Homo sapiens: one gene and its partners. The protein of the gene in region 1 purifies or fractionates together with the protein of each later gene. This does not show direct contact. Each region holds a gene or a part of one and is shown in the gene's direction. Other genes may lie near its edges.

Region 1 (3,518 bases):
CAAGGGGTTTCTTAGTTTGTTTTACATACATTTTACCTCTTTAAGCACATGAGCATTTAGCATTAGGTTTTCACAATTGGATGCTTCCTGGTGTTTTTATATAATTTTTTTTCTTCTAGTTTCCTGATAGGGAATTTCTCTTACGTGTATCTTACATGGAAATATACAATGAAACCATTACAGATTTACTCTGTGGCACTCAAAAAATGAAACCTTTAATTATTCGAGAAGATGTCAATGTGAGTAGCAGACTTAAGGGAGCTTTAAAATTGACTGACTTATTGAGATTATTGTTCTTGAATGTTTACCTTTAATTTCTATAGTTTTTAAAGTGTCTCCTATTTCTATAGTATGTGAGGGTTTTTTTGAAGTATTTATATTCATCTTTTAAACAATATGAATAGTTTTAAAATACTGACAGCTCTAATATTTTGGTTTAAGTGTAAAAATAGCAAGTTGGAAGTATCAGGTTAGAATTTGTTGTGCTTTGGTATGTGAAATAAATTGTGGGTATTCATAGAATTATTTGTTACATTCCTACAGAATTATGGTTCCATTTGCCACTTTTAACTTTCACAAATGAATTCTATAATAGTTTGCACCTTCTTTTGAAAAGCAAACTTGTGACTTCTATTTCTCTAATCTTTCCATAATTAAACTTGTTTCAGAGGAATGTGTATGTTGCTGATCTCACAGAAGAAGTTGTATATACATCAGAAATGGCTTTGAAATGGATTACAAAGGGAGAAAGTAAGACTTTATGCTGTATTTCTTTAGAACACTTGTAAAAACTATCTTTTCAATCAAGCACGTTTGGACCTCAAATCATACTTTTTTAAGTTAAAATAAAAATTATTGTGTTTCTATGGATTTTATTATATATGCAGCTGAAATATAACTCATTTTTACAGAGAGCAGGCATTATGGAGAAACAAAAATGAATCAAAGAAGCAGTCGTTCTCATACCATCTTTAGGATGGTAGGTAATTCTATCTATCTGTTAGATCTTTCCAAGTAAGAATGCACTAATTTTTCTACAGCTTGCCTTTTCTATCTAGATTTTGGAAAGCAGAGAGAAGGGTGAACCTTCTAATTGTGAAGGATCTGTTAAGGTATCCCATTTGGTGAGTATTAATGAACCATAATAATGTACTGTATGGGCCAAAACAAAATTTAATTTAGTTGCTGGATGTTTGGTTTAATAAGAACTGTTAACTAAACTAAATGTGGGAGGAAATCTACAAATTGTCTGCTTAGTCTTGTCAGTATCATCAAATTCCTAGCTAAAATGTCGTAGGAAAAATTCAGAGGATCTTTCTTCCTGTTATGTCATGGTTGCCATCTCCTAAAATTTAAATGTCAGGGCTATAGGGTTATAGGAATTGATGTTTTTTCTAACCACTAATGCAGTAGAATTTTTTTCTATACACATTTAACACTTTAGATCATCTTAGAATTTGAGGGTCTTTTTGTAAAATCTCAGCCAATGTAATTTAGACTTATGTGATCAACAAAAATCTAGGTTGGATGGTTAAAAAGTAATCACATTACTTTAGGTTTTACTTAAGTACAACAATAAAATATATTTTGTATTGTAAACGTAGTACTTTAGACTGTAAATCCATTGAGGAGTGATACTGCATTCATCCTGGTAGCCCCAACACATTATACCTATTTTATGTCTAATATAGATTTGCTGAATAAGCGAATATATGCATTATGCAAACATTCCTATATTCCACATTAGTAAACCTTCACTTCCTTCTTTCCACACTAAATTATTGCTGTTTCTTTCTTGCTCCTTTTCTATCTTTTACCATATTGCTTTATTCTGCATTTTTAGGGCCTAAATTCTTTAGCTTGATGTGGGATATGATTTAAGATTATTTGATTAGAAAACTTCAGGGAAAAAAGCAATCTATAATATGTTTATTCATTTTCAGATTTTATAAAATTAGATTATTAATTACTTAATATTCAATCCTAATTTCACCTTAGCTATTTTGCTATAAAATTGTATAACTTATTTTAGTAGACTTTAATCTTGTTTTAATTTAACAATAAAAAACCAAACCCTAACCTCTTTAGTTTTCTCATCCAAGACTGTGATATTTCATATAATTTTAACTTTTAATAATTTAGCTTTAATACTCTTGGCATATTCAGTGATCTACTTGATGATTTTCCTCATGTTACGTGATGCTCTGTCATTTGTGTTCCATCTGTTCCAACCCTCCAGCCTACCCACTTACTCTAAGAATCTTCTTGGAAAGAAGTCTCTAAAGAGTCATCTCTGTCTCTTTAGAGGTGGCTCTTTTCTGATTATCTCCTGGCCTTGGTGGGATGATAATATCCAGTTTCTCTTAGCTGTACTCCTCTGTTTTCTACCCTGGCTTCTTTTTCCCTACCCTCCTAAAAAAATAATTAAAAAAAAAAAAACTTGGAGGTATTCTGTGACGTTTCTTACTCAAGTTCTTGCTCTCAAATGTTCTGTCATCATTTCCATGTTGATGACTGCCAAATATTTTACCTATAGTCTCTGAATTCTAATTCATGTCTTCCTAAAGATGGTTATAATTGTGTCCCATCATTATCTCAAACTTTAATATGTCTAAAACGAAACTATTTTCTTCCTACCATAGTGAATATTCCTTATTTCCAGTAAAACCAGCATTATCCTAGCTGCCTAAGCTGGAAACCTAAGTCAATTTTGACTCATCTTTTTCTGCCTTTCTCTTTGTCCACTTGTCCCATTTCTTACTGATCCTACCTTTAAACATTTCCATGGGTGCTACACTCATTTACTTTCTCATCTCTCTTGAATTACTATGTCAGTCTCCTGGAACCTTGTCTCCATGACCCTTGTCTTTGTTTCTTGAAGTCATCATAAGGATTTCGAATATACTAACCATTGCTTTTGTATATCACTTCCTGGGGCAAGATTTGGCCACTCTTAACCAATCTAACTTTATTTCCTTCTGCTCTACATGAACTCCTCCCTCATAGATTGGGCCTCTGAGTATCTTTGAATATGAATGCTTGTTCTCATCTTTAACCTTCACTCATGCTGCCTTCATTACCACTTTGCCCTTTTATTATGTATCTGTGTCATCTGTAGTGGACACTGTGCAAGAAAAATTAGCCTCCTTAACTGGTAATACATATTTACCTGCCTAGTCTCAAAAATCTCCACAGAGAGAAATAACGTAAAGCTTTGACTTTCTTTCAAATCACTCACAATATTTACTAAGTTGTTATTGTCTTCTGAGCATGGTGTTGGGCTCTGAGATTAAAAAAACAATAAACAAGACACCCCTTCACTGCTTCTCTTACAAGCAGTCTCCTCTGCCACCTCCCTAACCCAAGCTGGTATTATCTCTCACCGAGATTCCTGCCCCAGCTGCCTGATGGGGCTGCCTGCAGCTGCTCTTGCCCCTTCCCAATCCATCCTCCACCCAGTAGTCATAGTGGATCCATTGTGAGAGTCATTGCTGAGCTTTATGCAAGGTTCTCTTTTT
Region 2 (3,518 bases), on another chromosome or scaffold:
AGTGAGACCCCCATCTCAAAAAAAATAAAAATTGTAAGCCTTAGGGAGGGGGAATCTTGTGGACCCAGCCTACTTCATGCACCTCTGGGCATGCTAAGGCCCTCCTGCCTCTGGCCCACCTGTTGTTCTCTTCCTAATCTTTGGCTGGTTGTGGCCACCTCATGGACACAGCATGAGTGTACACTTCTGACAACAATACGAGGTGCTCATTAGTGACCCCTCCTGTAGGTCCTGTAGGAGAACAAAGTGAAGAATTTTTACTACCCCCATTTCCTTTCCTTGAATTTCTTTGTTATTTTTAATTTTTTTTTAGAGATAGGGTCTCACTCTCTCACTCAGGGTTGAGTGCAGCAATGTGATCATAGCTCACTGCAGCCTCAACTTCCCAGGCTCAAGTGATGTTCCCACCTCAGCCTCCCAAGTAGCTGGGACTACAGGCCTGTGCCAGCATGCCTGGCTAATTTATGCATTTTTTGTAGAGATGAGGGGGTCTCACTTTGTTGCCCAGGCTGGTCTTGAACTCTTGGCCTCCAGCAATCTTCCCTCCTTAGCCTCCCAAAGTGCTGGGATTACAGGCGTGAGCCACCGTGCCCAGCTCTTTCCTTGAATTTATAAGGGTTCCACAATACTTCTAATCTTAGGAGATGGAAAAATCTTTTGATGAACAAAATGTTCCAAAGCGACGCTCAAGAAACACAGCTGTGGAGCAGAGGCTACGCCGTCTGCAGGACAGGTCCCTCACCCAGCCCATCACCACTGAAGAGGTGGTCATCGCAGCCACGTAAGTGCCCACAGGACTTCTCAGCCTTGTCTATAGTGTCTTTTTTTAAAAAAATACATTTAAAGAGTGTTCAATGAAAATGAGGCATTGGGGAGGTGATTTAGCTAGAAGCCACAGAGAAGTTAGTACTAAGGGATTTTGTTTACTGTGGTCTCTCTAAACTTTGTAATGGGATGTGTATCTTCTAGAAAAACTTGAAAGGAGTTTTTGTTCTATTTTGTTTCTGTCTCTGCATATTGATATTTTAAAAATCTCTTTGACAACGGAAAATAGAAACATGAAACTTGGTGGATTGCTGTGATGAAACCCCAGCTTCCACGGTCACCCGCTCCTGGCCGGTGATGCTCAGCCCGTGTGCCATTCATTTCCCCTTTCCTCCTGTGCTATTTTCAAGCAAACACTAGAGGTCTTACCATTTCATCCATAAATATCCCAGTACGCCCCTCTAAAAGATAAGGTTTGTTTTGTTCTTAATTGCCAGAAATCTCTTTTCTTTTTTTCTTTTTTTTTTTTTTTTTTTTTTTTTTTTGAGAGAGAGTCTTGCTCTGTCACCCAGAACGGAGTGCAGTGGCATGATCTCGGCTCACTGCAACCTCCGCCTCCTGGGTTCAAGCGATTCTCCTGCCTCCACCTCCCGAGTAGTTGGGATTACAGGCATGTGCCACCACACTCAGCTAATTTTTGTATTTTTAGTAGAGACGGGGTTTCACCATGTTGGCCAGGCTGGTCTCAAACTCCTGACCTCAGGTGATCCATGCCTCAGCCTCCCAAAGTGCTGGGATTAATTGCCAGAAATTTCTAAAAATTAAATTGCAGTTTGATAACTTTCCAAACAATAGGAAGTTTGTTTTGAATAATATGTTTCAATATATTCAGAATTAATTTCCCAGAGTAGTTCATTCAGAGATCATTGCTTCAATCAAGTGAAAAATTTTCTTATTTTTGCGGGGGGCATTGTTTGTTTTTTTGAGGCAGTGTCTCACTCTGTTACTCAGGCTGGAATGCAGTGCGCCATCTTGGCTCATTACAGCCTCAACCTCCTGGGCTCAATTGACCCTCCAACCTCAGCCTCCCAAGTAGTTGGGACTGTAGGCCCAACCACCACACCTGGCTAATTTTTGTATTTTTTGTGGTGATGGGGTTTTGCCATGTTGCCCAGTCTGATCTTAAACTCCTGGGCTCAAGCGATCCTCCCACCTCAGCCTCCCAAAGTGCTGGAGCTACAGGCGTGAGCCACTGTACCCAGCCTAGTTTTGTTGTTGTTGATGTTGTTAATTGGTTTTGTGCTTACCTTGGACACACAGACACCCTTCCTGGAAAAAAAAATAGTTCATCCCATTAGGTTATTGACATCCCAAAAGGCCTCTATGTCAGTGCCCCGTTCTGTAGACCTGCTGTTAGATCAGCTGCCTACAGTTCCTCCCCGAGTTGTTCCTCAGTTTCTTGGTGCATTTGTAGCTAAGTATATCCTTGCACTCATTAGGAACTCTTTGCAAATCAGTTTGTTTTTTAAAAAAAGAAATATTTGAATGGCTGGTGTAAAATAACAGGCAGATACCCATGGGAGCAAAACAGTAAATATAAGAAAAATTAATCCCATTTTAAGGCTCAATAAATCTACCTTGATGTGCCTATAGATTGTATAAGAACACTGATACTTTTAAAAAGTAGATTGAGGCCGGGTGCAGTGGCTCACACCTGTAATCCCAGCACTTAGGGAGGCAGAGGTGGGTGGATCACCTGAAGTCAGGAGTTCAAGACCAGCCTGGCCAACATGGTGAAACCCCGTCCCTACTAAAAAATACAAAAATATTGGCCAGGCATGGTGGCGCACGCCTGTAATCCCAGCTACTCGGGAGGCTGAGGCAGGAGAAATGCTTAAACCCAGGAGGTGGAGGCTGCAGTGAGCCGAGATCGCGCCACTGCATTCCAGCCTGGGCGACAGAGTGAGACTCTGTCAAAAAAAAAAAAAAAAAAAAAGGCTGGGCCCAGTGGCTTACACCTGTAATCCCAGCACTTTGGGAGGCTGAGGCAGGTGGATCACGAGGTCAAGAGATCAAGACCATCCTGGCCAACATGGTGAAACCTCATCTCTAATAAAAATACAAAAATTAACTGGGCGTGGTGGTGCGCGCCTGTAATCCCAGCTACTCAGGAGGCTGAGGCAGGAGAATCACTTGACCCCGGGAGGCGGAGTTTGCAGTGAGCCAAGATCATGCCACTGCACTCCAGCCTGGTGACAGAGACAGACTCCATCTCCAAAAAAGAAAAAGAAAGAAAAAAATTAGATTGGAAACAATATTCTAAAACACAGACATAATCTACTGATTTTTTGATAGCTAATATTTGCTTTTTTGAATTATTATTTTTTTTACACCAAGACATGTATTCTCAAGACAGAGTAAATCCTCCCAGCTCTGAACACCTATTCTTACCCCATTTGCTTTGGGTAGCCACTATCTCTTATTTCCTGAGTTTGTATTTGCTTTTGAAGTTCTTTCGTGATTTTTTCTCCCCAAAAATAATTAGCAAAATATTCTGTTAAAATTTTTGATTTAACGTTTCTGAATTTAAAACTATGCTGTCCTTAATGCTTCTTTTCTTCTCTCTCCTTATGAATGTTTCCTCTTTGGCAATTGCTTTTAAAGTGAACCTATCCCCGCTTCGTGTTCTGGGGGCACCCACCCTGTAATGGCGAGACTTCCTAGCCCCACTGTAGCTAGGAGCGCTGTGCAGC
Region 3 (3,518 bases), on another chromosome or scaffold:
TTCTGGAAGCCAGAAAAACTATGAGTAGCAGATAGGTCAGGCATCCTAGTGCCAAAATTTGGATAGAACTCTTAGCTAACAAAATAGCTCCTGGTAAGATAAAATTTTTTTAAAAATTGGTGTCTTCTAATTAAGTAACAGAAAACATGTAGGAAGATATTGTGTACTTAACCGTTGTCTGTCCCCTGACTCAGACCTATGGTCTTATCCTACCATATCTATGCTCAGGGGGTGCTAAGCTGTTGAATGGCCTTGGTACTTTTCCTCCTAGATTCTAGTCACCCATTCTTCCCACTGCTAATTTTCCTTTCAGAGATAATGATATCTGTTATGCGTGTCTGTGTGAAGAGACCACCAAACAGGCTTTGTGTGAGGAACAAGGCTGTTTATTCACTTGGGTGCAAGTGGGTTGAGTCCGAAAAGAGAGTCAGTGAAGGGAGATAGGAGAGGGGCAGCTTTATAGGGCTTGAGTAGGCAGTGGAAAGTTACAGTTAAAGGTGGTTATTTATTGTTAGCAGGGGAGGGGGTCCCAAGGTGCATGGTGGAGAGATCTTGGGACTCATTGTCCAGAAGAAGAATGTCACAAGGTCGATTGATCAGTTGGGGCAGGGCAGAACAAGTCATAATGGTGGAATGTCGTAAGGTTGGTCAGTCAGTTAAGGCAGGAGCTGTTTCACTTCTGTGGTTTTTTAGCTGGCTCCTGCAGGCCATCTGGACGTATATATGCAGGTTACGGGGGTTACAATGGCTGAGCTTCGGCTCAGAGGCCTGACAATATCCAGAAAATGATGTGCACAAAATTTGGATGAGGGAAGAAAATTTGGACATCGGCCCTTTGCTTTTTGGAAGTAAAAATTCTTATCTGCAATTGGCAAAAGAATAAGACATATACATCAATGGGGACAGAATTAGGAAGTCCAGAAATACATCCACACAAATATAGTCAATTGATTTTTTTTTTAACAAAGGTGCAAAGGCAATTCAATAGAGGAAAGATAGTCTTTTCAACAAGTGGTGCTGTAACAGTTGGATATTCATATGCGCAAAAATGAACCTAGACACAGATCTTATTTATTATACCTTACACAAAAACTAACTCAAAATGAACCATAGACCTAAATGTAAAATGCAAAACTATAAAACTTCCAGATGAGAACAGTAGAAAGTCTGTGATCTTGGGTTTCGTGATGAGATGTAACACCAAGAGCAAGATACATGAAAGAAAAAAGTAGATCAGTTAGACTTTATTAAAATTAAAAACATCTCTGTGAAAGACACTGTTCTTTTTGTTTTGTTTTTGAGACGGAGTTTCACTCTGCCACCCAGGCTGGAGTGCAGTGGCGTGACCTCGGCTCACTGCAGCCTCTGCCTCCTGGGTTCAAGTGATTCTCCTGTCTCAGCCTCCTGAGTAGCTGGAACTACAGGCGCCTGCCACCACGCCTGGCTAATTTTTTTGTGTTTTCAATAGAGATGGGGTTCACCATGTTGATCAGGCTGGTCTCGATCCCCTGACCTCAGGTGATCGCCTGCCTCAGCCTCCCAGAGTGCTGGGATGACAAGCGTGAGCCACTGTACCCTGCCAAAAGACGCTGTTAAGAGAATGAAAGACCCAGTGTCGAAACCCATAGAGCTTTACGTCATCAAGAGTGAACCTTAATGTTTGCAAATTTAGGTCAGGTGATCCCAGGATGGTATGCAGACTGTGACAAAATCTAATCCCCTTCCTGAAGGGAGTGGGGGTGGGGGAAAAGGTGCTGAGCTAACTACTGTTTTTAGTTCCAAGAAACTAAACATTTCTTAAGTAATTTATGCTTGTGGTTTAAAACAGTTTCAAACTATTCAGAAGGATATAAAGTGAAAGCAAAGTAGCAGTTTCTGCCCATGTTCTCTAATCTCACGCTCCACTGATAACTAGAATTAACAGTTTCACTCCACTGATAACTAGAATTAACAGTTTCTTGTTTATCTTCTAGAATTGTTTGAGGTTAAAACTATGTATTTGTAATTAAAACACAATCAATTGGGATTATATCGTAGATACTGTATGCAATTTGCTTTTTTTAATCCACCAATGTATCTTTCTGTAGCAGTATAGACTAATTATTTTTAAATAATGTATTTAACCCCCTATTGATGGAGATCTGGTTGTTTTATTGTTTGCTTTTTGCCATTACAGGTAACCTATGTGCAGTGTGCACCCTTTGTGCCCTTGTGAAAGTATACCTGTGTAAATTCATAGAAGTGGAATGACTAGATTAAAGGGCACATGCATTTCGAATATATATAAGCACTGACAAATTTCTCTTCCAAGTGAATGAGTATAGCTATATATCCACTCCCTTGCCAACACTTAGCATTATACAAGTTTTAATCTTAGCAGTGTTATAGGGAAAATAATGGTTTCTCTGTTGTATTAATTTGCATTTATGATTTTGTTCATGTTTATTCAGCATCTAAAAATTGTGTTCATCTTTGACAATGTAGTTTTTTCTGCAAACTACCCATGTTTTTCCCCATTTTTCTGATTTTTTTTTTTTAAACTGATTTGTAAGAGTTCTTTGATGTTATGAAAATGTCATCACTTTAGTCTTGGTTATGCCTCCATATTATTGCAACTATTTTTCCCAGTGTGTTATTTTTTTATTTTATGCCATATGTAAGTTTTCAGTTTTTATGTAGTTAGATTGATAAATATTTCTCCTTATTCCTTCCAGGTTCTGTATCATGCTTGGGAAGGCCTTTTCTCAGATTTATTAAAAGATATGACTGGGCACAGTGGCTCATGCTTGTGATCCCAGCACTTTGGGAGGCCCAGGCAGGAGGATTGCTTGAGGCCATGAGTTTGAGACTAGCCTGGGCAACATAGCAAGACCCTGTTTATACAAAAAGTAAAATTAGCTGGGCGTGGTGGGTGGTGGTGTGCACCTCTAGTCCCAGCTACTTGGGAGACTGATGTAGGAGGATTGCTTGAGCCCAGGAGGTCGAGGCCGCAGTGAGCCATGATTACACCACTGCACTCCAGCCTGGGTGACAGAGCAAGACTTTTGTCTCTAAAAAAAAGGAAAGATATATAATGTAAAAAATGATAATGTCCTAAAACTAAGATTGTAAAAACAGTGACTGAGCAGTGGTTGAAAGTTCTGAAACAAAACTGTATGCATATGTTTTTTAGGTTTTCTTATGCATTTTTTAAAAGAATTGGCAGAATATCATCAAGCTAAAGAGAGTTGTAATATGGAAACTCAGACAAGTTCGACATTTAACAGAGATTCTCTGGGTAATTATAGCCTTCTTTCTTAATTTCAGTTCTGCTGTTTTCATTTTGAATGAAGGAAATTATCTGATTTACCATATTGTGTGATTGCTCCTTGAACTGGAGGGATGCAGCCGGCAGGCAACAAGGGAATTCATTTCTGGAATCATCTTGGGGGACCAGGAAGTGCTCTCCAGTGTCATTCCCTAGCCTCATGAATGCCAGGGCTACACTGGCCAAATCATGCAGGGATTCAAAGGCCCAT
Region 4 (3,518 bases), on another chromosome or scaffold:
GACTCCCCGCCCCTTCCCGCTGTGTGAGCTCCCTGGGGGCCTCAGCCTCCCTGGCTATGCTTCCCACCAGCTTGGGCAGTGATGGTCCCGAGCCCAGGTTCTGGAGTGGGGCTTGGCACTGGCATTTTAAAATCCCTGCACGTGACTGTGGCTGACAGCCGGGGTTGAGGACTGCCAGTCCCATGGAAGAATGCAGGCTCTGGGGCCGTCCCGACAGGCAGCAGCACCCCTCTCTGGGGCAAGGCCTCTGCAGGCTGATGGCTGCCCTCCCATGTCTCAGGCCACCAAGGTGTGTGGCAGGGTGGGCCTGGGCCTCCAGCCTGGCCCCGGGCGCTGGGGAGGGCAGCAGTGGCTCTGTCTCGGGGCAGCACACCCAACCATGAGTGCCGGCCTTGTGCTGGTGGACCTGGAAGCCCGGCCCTGACTGTGCCCACAGGGTGGCAAAGGGACGGGGGTGTCCTTCGTGTCGTTTCCTCCTGCCCTGTTCTGCTCGTAGGAGATTAAAAAACTCAAAGAATTAATGAGCGCCACCGAGAAAGCCCGCCGGGAGAAGTGGATCAGTGAGAAAACCAAGAAGATCAAGGAGGTCACTGTCCGAGGTGGGCCCTCCCCTCCCATGAGCCGGCCAGGTGTGGGGTGGGTGCTGCGGCCAGGGCTTCTTTTGAGAGAGCCATAACTTCAGGCATTCATGTAGTCCGAGACCTTCCTGGGCAGAGGTGAACACTCATGCCCCAACCACCCCCGTCACGGCCTCCGCTGCGGCTTCTGCCGTGACCCGGGGGGCAGGTGGGCTCCACACAGGAGCCTGGCCCAGCCCCCAGCATCTAGGCAGTTGCCTGAAACGAGGGGGCTCAGTGCCTCACTTCCTCAGGGTTGGGCTAGGGGAGATTGGGAGTTTGTGGACGACTGTGGCACGTGGGCCCTGCCACGGGAAGCAGAGTGAGCCACAGGAGGAGGCAGGGGCAGGCAGGCGGATGGGGCAGGAGGCTGGTGGGTGTTGTGGTCTGAAGGGGCCTCGGACCCTTGGGTGATGTGCAGGGCTCCCCGAGGCCTGGTCCTCTCGCTCTGGACACCTGCCAGGGTGCCTGGGAGCCGTCAGTGGTAGCACCAGGAGTGTCAGGAGCCCTGAGCCCCACAGGCTGGGAGAGGCGCCGTGGCCCTGTGGGGGTCTCTTCCCCACCTCGTGGGCGTCAAGACTCAGCTGTGCTTCGGGTTGGATCCAAGGAGGCCCTGGGTGGGCGGGGTCCCCTCTGGGCCTGAGACAGGCTGGTCTTGTGCCAGGGTTGGACTTCCCGGGCCCACCCTAGCTGGACGTGGCCCTAGCTGGTGCCCCGCCCCCAGGTCTGGAGCCCGAGATCCAGAAGCTGATTGCAAGGCACAAGCAGGAAGTGCGGAGGCTCAAGAGCCTGCACGAGGCGGAGCTGCTGCAGTCGGATGAGCGGGCCTCGCAGCGCTGCCTGCGCCAGGCCGAGGAGCTGCGGGAGCAGCTGGAGCGGGAGAAGGAGGCGCTGGGCCAGCAGGAGCGCGAACGTGCTCGGCAGCGGTGGGTGGTGGCCCCAGGCCGGTGGGGCCAGGACCCTCAGGGCGGGGAGTCGGAATCCTCGAAGGCTGGAGTGGAGTTCCCATGTAGAGGTGGGCGAGGGTCTTAGTGCAGCATGCAGGGAGGACGCAGGGCCCTTGGCCCTGGAGTGGCCCTTGGGGGCCCAGCCTCAGCCGGGCCAGTGTCCTCGGGCTTGTGTCTGCAGTTCATGCCCGCCGAGGTCTGCAGGTTCTGCATGGGTGCACGGGTGTTTTCCCAGGGTCAGGGCTGGGAACCCCCACCAGACATCCACTCTTTCACAACTGGCCCCAGAGCAGCAACCCGTGGATAGGCGGCCTCGAGGCCCCTCCAGCTCTGACCTTGGGGCCCAGGGACGGTCTCTCTCATTCACTCCCTTGGCCTGGGGTCTGAGGGGTGACTGCTGCTCTTGCGTCCTGAGCCCTGGGGGCTGGGGACGTGCCCAGTGGTGGTCAGGATCTGCGGGCCACAGGGGGCAGTGGCAGCCCCTCCTGCACTGTCTGCGCCACCAGGACAGCCTGGAAGCCACCCTCTCCTATCCACCCTGTTGCCTGTCGTGGCTGGTCCTCCCCAGATGCAGCTTGGCTGGTCCCCCAGTCTCTCCTCGAAGGTGGGGTCAGGACGAGGCCCTGGCGCGAGCTTGCTCAGGTCACGGAGCCAGGCACCTGGCACCCTCAGGCCGGAGGCAGGGGAGGTGGATAAGGCCCCACGAGGCACCTGCCTCCCGCCCTCCATGCCCGTGGGGCAATGCTGAACAGGGTGAGGCCGGCACACGGGCTGAGGGAAAAGGGGGCCTGGACGCGGCTCCACAGCCACTTCCCAAAGTGCCACGAGGGCCTGGAGCTCAGGGAATTGCTGCGCTTGGCTGATGGGCAAGTTCCTCGTGGCCTTGCCTGCCCCCGGGCGGTGGCTTTGAGGGGCCTTGACTGCCGAGGGGGAGGGGCAGGGCCCCGGAGGGCTGCTCTCCAGCTGTGAGTCAGGCCTGTGGTCGGCCCGTGCCCCTGCGGTGGGTGGGTCCTGGGACCGCCCGTCCCGGCCCCCGAGAGCCAGTCCTGACCGTCCCGCAGGTTCCAGCAGCACCTGGAGCAGGAGCAGTGGGCGCTGCAGCAGCAACGGCAGCGGCTGTACAGTGAGGTGGCTGAGGAGAGGGAGCGGCTGGGCCAGCAGGCAGCCAGGTGCCGCCCGGGGGCACCACGCCCTCTCCCAGGGACCCCTCGCTGGCTGACCCCTCCCCCCCGCCCCCTCACCCGCTGACCTCTCCCATCCCTGACTCCTTACTCGATGACCCCTCACCTGCTGACTCCTCCCTGGCCGCAGGCAGCGGGCGGAGCTGGAAGAGCTGAGGCAGCAGCTGGAGGAGAGCAGCTCTGCACTGACCCGAGCCCTGAGGGCTGAGTTTGAGAAGGGCAGGGAGGAGCAGGAGCGCCGGCACCAGGTCTACCACCGGAGGGCTGTGCTGGGCCTGGCCAGGGGGCTGCACGGGGTGGGACTGACTGGCCTCTTATGTCCGCCCCCCAGATGGAGCTGAATACCCTGAAGCAGCAGCTGGAGCTGGAGAGGCAGGCGTGGGAGGCCGGCCGCACCAGGAAGGAGGTGGGGGCCTGGGCACCCAGGTGGGCAGGGGTTGGGGGCTGCCCTGCGTGGGCAGGAGTTGGGGGCTGCCCCAGGTGGGTTTTGCTGCTGCTGTGGCATCCTGGGGGCTCGTTTCTGGGAGTCACATCTGGCTGCTTGGGGTTGTTGTCTGAACTGACGCTGAGTGTGTTGCTTTCAGCCCATCTTTTGCGTGGGCTCTGGAAGGATCAAGGGTGCCTGGAGCGCATCCTCTGTGGTCCGAGAACAGGCGTTGCCCCTCTCGCTAGGGGCTGCTACACCCCTGCGCCCCACGACCAGCCCACTGACACTCAGATGTACCGAGAGGGACACGCACAACAGGGGCTCCCCCCTTAGCCTCTGGGGCCTT
Region 5 (3,518 bases), on another chromosome or scaffold:
GAGCCCAGGAGTTCAATACCAGCCTGGGCAACATAGCGAGATCCTGTCTCTATATTTAAAAAAAAAACAAAAACCCATAACCAGAATGCTATTATTGTGCCTAAAACATTTAATAATAATTCCTCTATTCTCAGCAGTTTTTTCTGTAGTTTATTCCAATCAGGATCCAAATAATGTCCCTAAATTGCAGTGACCGTATTCTTATGGTATTCTTTGGCATGTTCTGTCCTCTGTATTTCCAATAGATTAATAGGTCTAGAGGCCTGAGAAGGCTCAGATTTGAGTTGGGGCAAGAATACTTCATAAGTGGTGCTGTTTACTGTCAGGAGGCAAATAATGTCTGGTTGTCACTTTTTGTCATATTAACAGCCATTGATGGTCATTATCTCGATCCATTATTTCATTAGGGGTTGTAAAATGGTGATAGTCTAATCCTGGCTTTATCCTTCATTTATTAGGCAGAATGATTCTATAAGAGAAACTTACCCTCATCAACTATTTAGATACCCTGAAATATAGTTTATATTGTAAGAGCAGGATAATTGCTTGATTTTTTTTGTTTTAATGACTTTTCAAATAATGAATTGGATTTTTAAAAAGTATTATTAACCCAAGGATTTAAACATATTTGACATATTTTAATCCATTACACATAAAATTATTCATAATGTTCAAATTGTTGGGACTTTTTAGGCTGTTTTATTTCTGTTGTCTTTCTACAACATCAGAACTGTATTTCATTGTTCCCTTTAGTGAATTTTTTTTTTTTTGAGACCGTGTCTCACCCTGTCACCCAGGCTGGAATGCAGTGGCACGATCACAGCTCACTACAACCTCAACCTTCCAGGATCAAGCCATCCTCCCACCTCTGCCCCCACTTTCCCCATACCTGGGACTACAGGCGTGTGCCACCACACCTGGCTAATTTTTGTATTTTTTGTAGAGACACGGTTTCGTCATGTTGCCCAGGGCTAGTTTCTAACCCCTGGGCTCAAGTGACCCACCCGCCTCAGTCTTCCAATGTGCTGGGATTACAGGGGTGAAACACTACACCCAGCCTCCTTTAGTGATAATTTTTATAGCAAAAGATGATTTGGTTAAATAAGTTAGAATACTTTTTAAAAAAATTCTTAAGAGGCAGTGTCTCGCTCTGTTGCCCAGACTGGAGTGCAGTGGGCTAATCATAGCTCATTGCAGCCTCGAACTCCTGGGCTCAAGTGATCCTCCCGCCTCAGCCTCCTGAATAGCTTAGACTACAGATGTGTGCCATCACACCCAGCTACTTTTTTTTTTTTTTAATAGAGACGGGGTCTTGCTCTGTTTCCCAGGTTCAGTTAGAAGCAGATTTTTTTAAGTAAAATTATCTTGTAAGTTTGAATAAGCTGGGAATTCAGATCATTTTATTGTCACCTTTCTTTGCCTTGAAAAATTAAGATGTATAGTCACCAGTTCAAAATTTAAAAAGAAAAGAAAAATTAAGATGCCCTCTAACATAGGAAGATTAAGTGAATTTGTATCAAATTAAAATCCCTATAGGAAGAAATATAAGAAAAAGAGGTCTAAGAAGAGCAGAAAAGAGTCCAGTGATTCAAGCTCTAAAGAATCCCAAGAAGAGTTTCTGGAAAATCCCTGGAAGGATCGAACAAGTAGGTTCTTCTGATAGACTAACTCAGAACAGATGAAACATTAAAGTAACCAATTAGTCAGAATGTGAATGTGTTTCTTAATATCTTTCATGCAGAGGCTGAAGAACCATCAGATTTAATTGGCCCAGAGGCTCCAAAAACACTTACCTCTCAAGATGATAAACCTTTGAAGTAAGCAGCAGTGTGTTTATAATATCTAAAGTACCTACCAAAAAGTCTGGTTCTAACTTACCTTGCCAAGCTTATCTGACTCTATTCCCTTATTTCTACTCCAGGTTCCAGCTGAGCTGGACTACTAAATATTCCCTGGGCTTAATGTGCACTTTGCAACTTTTATGCCATGTTCAGCTTATTTCTTCATCCAGTATGCCTTCCCTTCTTTTCCCTGCCCTCTGTTTTCTTCCCTATCGCCAGTTTCTTCCTGTTAAAATCCTTACTATCCTTCGAAGCCCTTTTCAAAAGGAGATGCATATGCTGATTCCCAATACTTCCCCTCCACAAGTAGGTGTGATTTCTGTTTCTCTTTGATCCTCACAGAATTTTTTATTCCTTTTTTTCTCTTTTTTCTTTTTTTACCAGCAGAATTTTTTTTTCTTTTTGTGAGACGGAGTCTCGCTCTGTTGCCCAGGCTGGAGTTTAGTGGCGTGATCTTGGCTCACTGCAACCTCTGCCTCCCAGGTTCAAGCGATTCTCCTGCCTCAGCCTCCTGAGTAACTGGGATTACAGGCACGCGCCACCACACTCAGCTAATTTTTTTTTGTATTTTCAGTAGAGATACGGTTTTACCATGTTGGTCAGGCTGGTCTCAAATTCCTGACCTCATGATCCACCTGCCTCAGCCTCCCAAAGTGCTGGGATTACAGGCGTGAGCCACCGCACCTGGTCTAGAATTTTTTTTTTGTTTGTTTTGTTTTGTTTTTTTGAGATGGAGTCTCACTCTGTCTCCCAGGCTGAAGCACAGTGGTGTGATTGAGTTTCACTCTGTTGCCCAGGCTGGAGTGCAGTGGCATGATCTTGGCTCACTGCAACCTCCACCTCCCAGATTCAAGTGATTCTCCTGCCTCAGCCTCCCAAGTAGCCAGGATTACAGGCGCCTGCCGCCACGCCCGGACTAATTTTTGTATTTTTAGTAGAGCTGGGGTTTCGCCATGTTGGCCAGTATGGTCTCGAACTCCTGATCTCAAGTGATCTGCCCGCCTCAACCTCCAAAAATGCTGAGATTACAGGCGTCAGCCACTGCACCCAGCCTACTTTGTTTTTTTTTTTTGTTTTGTTTTGTTTTGTTTTTTGAGACAAAGCCTTACTCTGTCGCCCAGGCTGGAGTGCAGTGACACGATCTCGGCTCACTGCAACCTCTGCCTCCCAGGTTCAAGTGATTCTCCTGCCTCAGCCTCCTGAGTAGCTGGGACTACAAGCATGCACCACCATGCCCGGCTAATTTTGTATTTTTAGTAGAGACGGGGTTTCGCTATGTTGGCCAGGCTGCTCTCAAGCTCCTGATCTCAGGTGATCCTCCCGCCTCAGCCTCCCAAAGTGTTCAGATTGTAGGCGTGAGCCACTGTGCCTGGCATACTTTGGATTTTTTAAGGGAAAAAGGGAAAGGGAATCAGCTGGAGCCAGAACCAGTAATGACAATACCTGTAGGGATAAATTAATCCATAATTGTAAACTGTGAATCTATACTCACAGCAGTTCTTTTCTTTCAAAATATTTCTGCATTTCTGGGTTAGTTGTATAGGTCATAGTGCAATGCAATGTTTAATACACTAATTAGGATAAAGCAATTCACATTGAGCTTCCTAGCACACTACTGCTGAGCACTGTTATTCCTACTCTTGTTTGAGAGAAAATGTGGGGATTTTTGGTGCTCTC

The links.
Region 2: the proteins of CENPE (region 1) and SVIL purify together in Homo sapiens (affinity purification with mass spectrometry; one large-scale study listed by BioGRID and IntAct). This does not show direct contact.
Region 3: the proteins of CENPE (region 1) and OFD1 purify together in Homo sapiens (affinity purification with mass spectrometry; one large-scale study listed by BioGRID and IntAct). This does not show direct contact.
Region 4: the proteins of CENPE (region 1) and CEP131 purify together in Homo sapiens (affinity purification with mass spectrometry; one large-scale study listed by BioGRID and IntAct). This does not show direct contact.
Region 5: the proteins of CENPE (region 1) and NKAP purify together in Homo sapiens (affinity purification with western blotting; one study listed by BioGRID). This does not show direct contact.

The regions. Positions count from the first base shown.
Region 1 is NC_000004.12:103,191,835-103,195,352, reverse strand, and holds part of CENPE (centromere-associated protein E isoform 1 precursor), read left to right. Parts: intron 1-119; coding exon 120-239; intron 240-668; coding exon 669-750; intron 751-911; coding exon 912-979; intron 980-1,058; coding exon 1,059-1,124; intron 1,125-3,518. UniProt on the Homo sapiens protein: Microtubule plus-end-directed kinetochore motor which plays an important role in chromosome congression, microtubule-kinetochore conjugation and spindle assembly checkpoint activation.
Region 2 is NC_000010.11:29,526,968-29,530,485, reverse strand, and holds part of SVIL (supervillin), read left to right. Parts: intron 1-641; coding exon 642-781; intron 782-3,429; coding exon 3,430-3,518.
Region 3 is NC_000023.11:13,741,243-13,744,760, forward strand, and holds part of OFD1 (centriole and centriolar satellite protein OFD1), read left to right. Parts: intron 1-3,172; coding exon 3,173-3,277; intron 3,278-3,518. UniProt on the Homo sapiens protein: Component of the centrioles controlling mother and daughter centrioles length. Recruits to the centriole IFT88 and centriole distal appendage-specific proteins including CEP164. Involved in the biogenesis of the cilium, a centriole-associated function.
Region 4 is NC_000017.11:81,191,951-81,195,468, reverse strand, and holds part of CEP131 (centrosomal protein of 131 kDa), read left to right. Parts: intron 1-496; coding exon 497-599; intron 600-1,341; coding exon 1,342-1,543; intron 1,544-2,625; coding exon 2,626-2,733; intron 2,734-2,875; coding exon 2,876-2,993; intron 2,994-3,076; coding exon 3,077-3,151; intron 3,152-3,518. UniProt on the Homo sapiens protein: Component of centriolar satellites contributing to the building of a complex and dynamic network required to regulate cilia/flagellum formation.
Region 5 is NC_000023.11:119,930,235-119,933,752, reverse strand, and holds part of NKAP (NF-kappa-B-activating protein), read left to right. Parts: intron 1-1,536; coding exon 1,537-1,646; intron 1,647-1,741; coding exon 1,742-1,817; intron 1,818-3,518. UniProt on the Homo sapiens protein: Acts as a transcriptional repressor. Plays a role as a transcriptional corepressor of the Notch-mediated signaling required for T-cell development. Also involved in the TNF and IL-1 induced NF-kappa-B activation.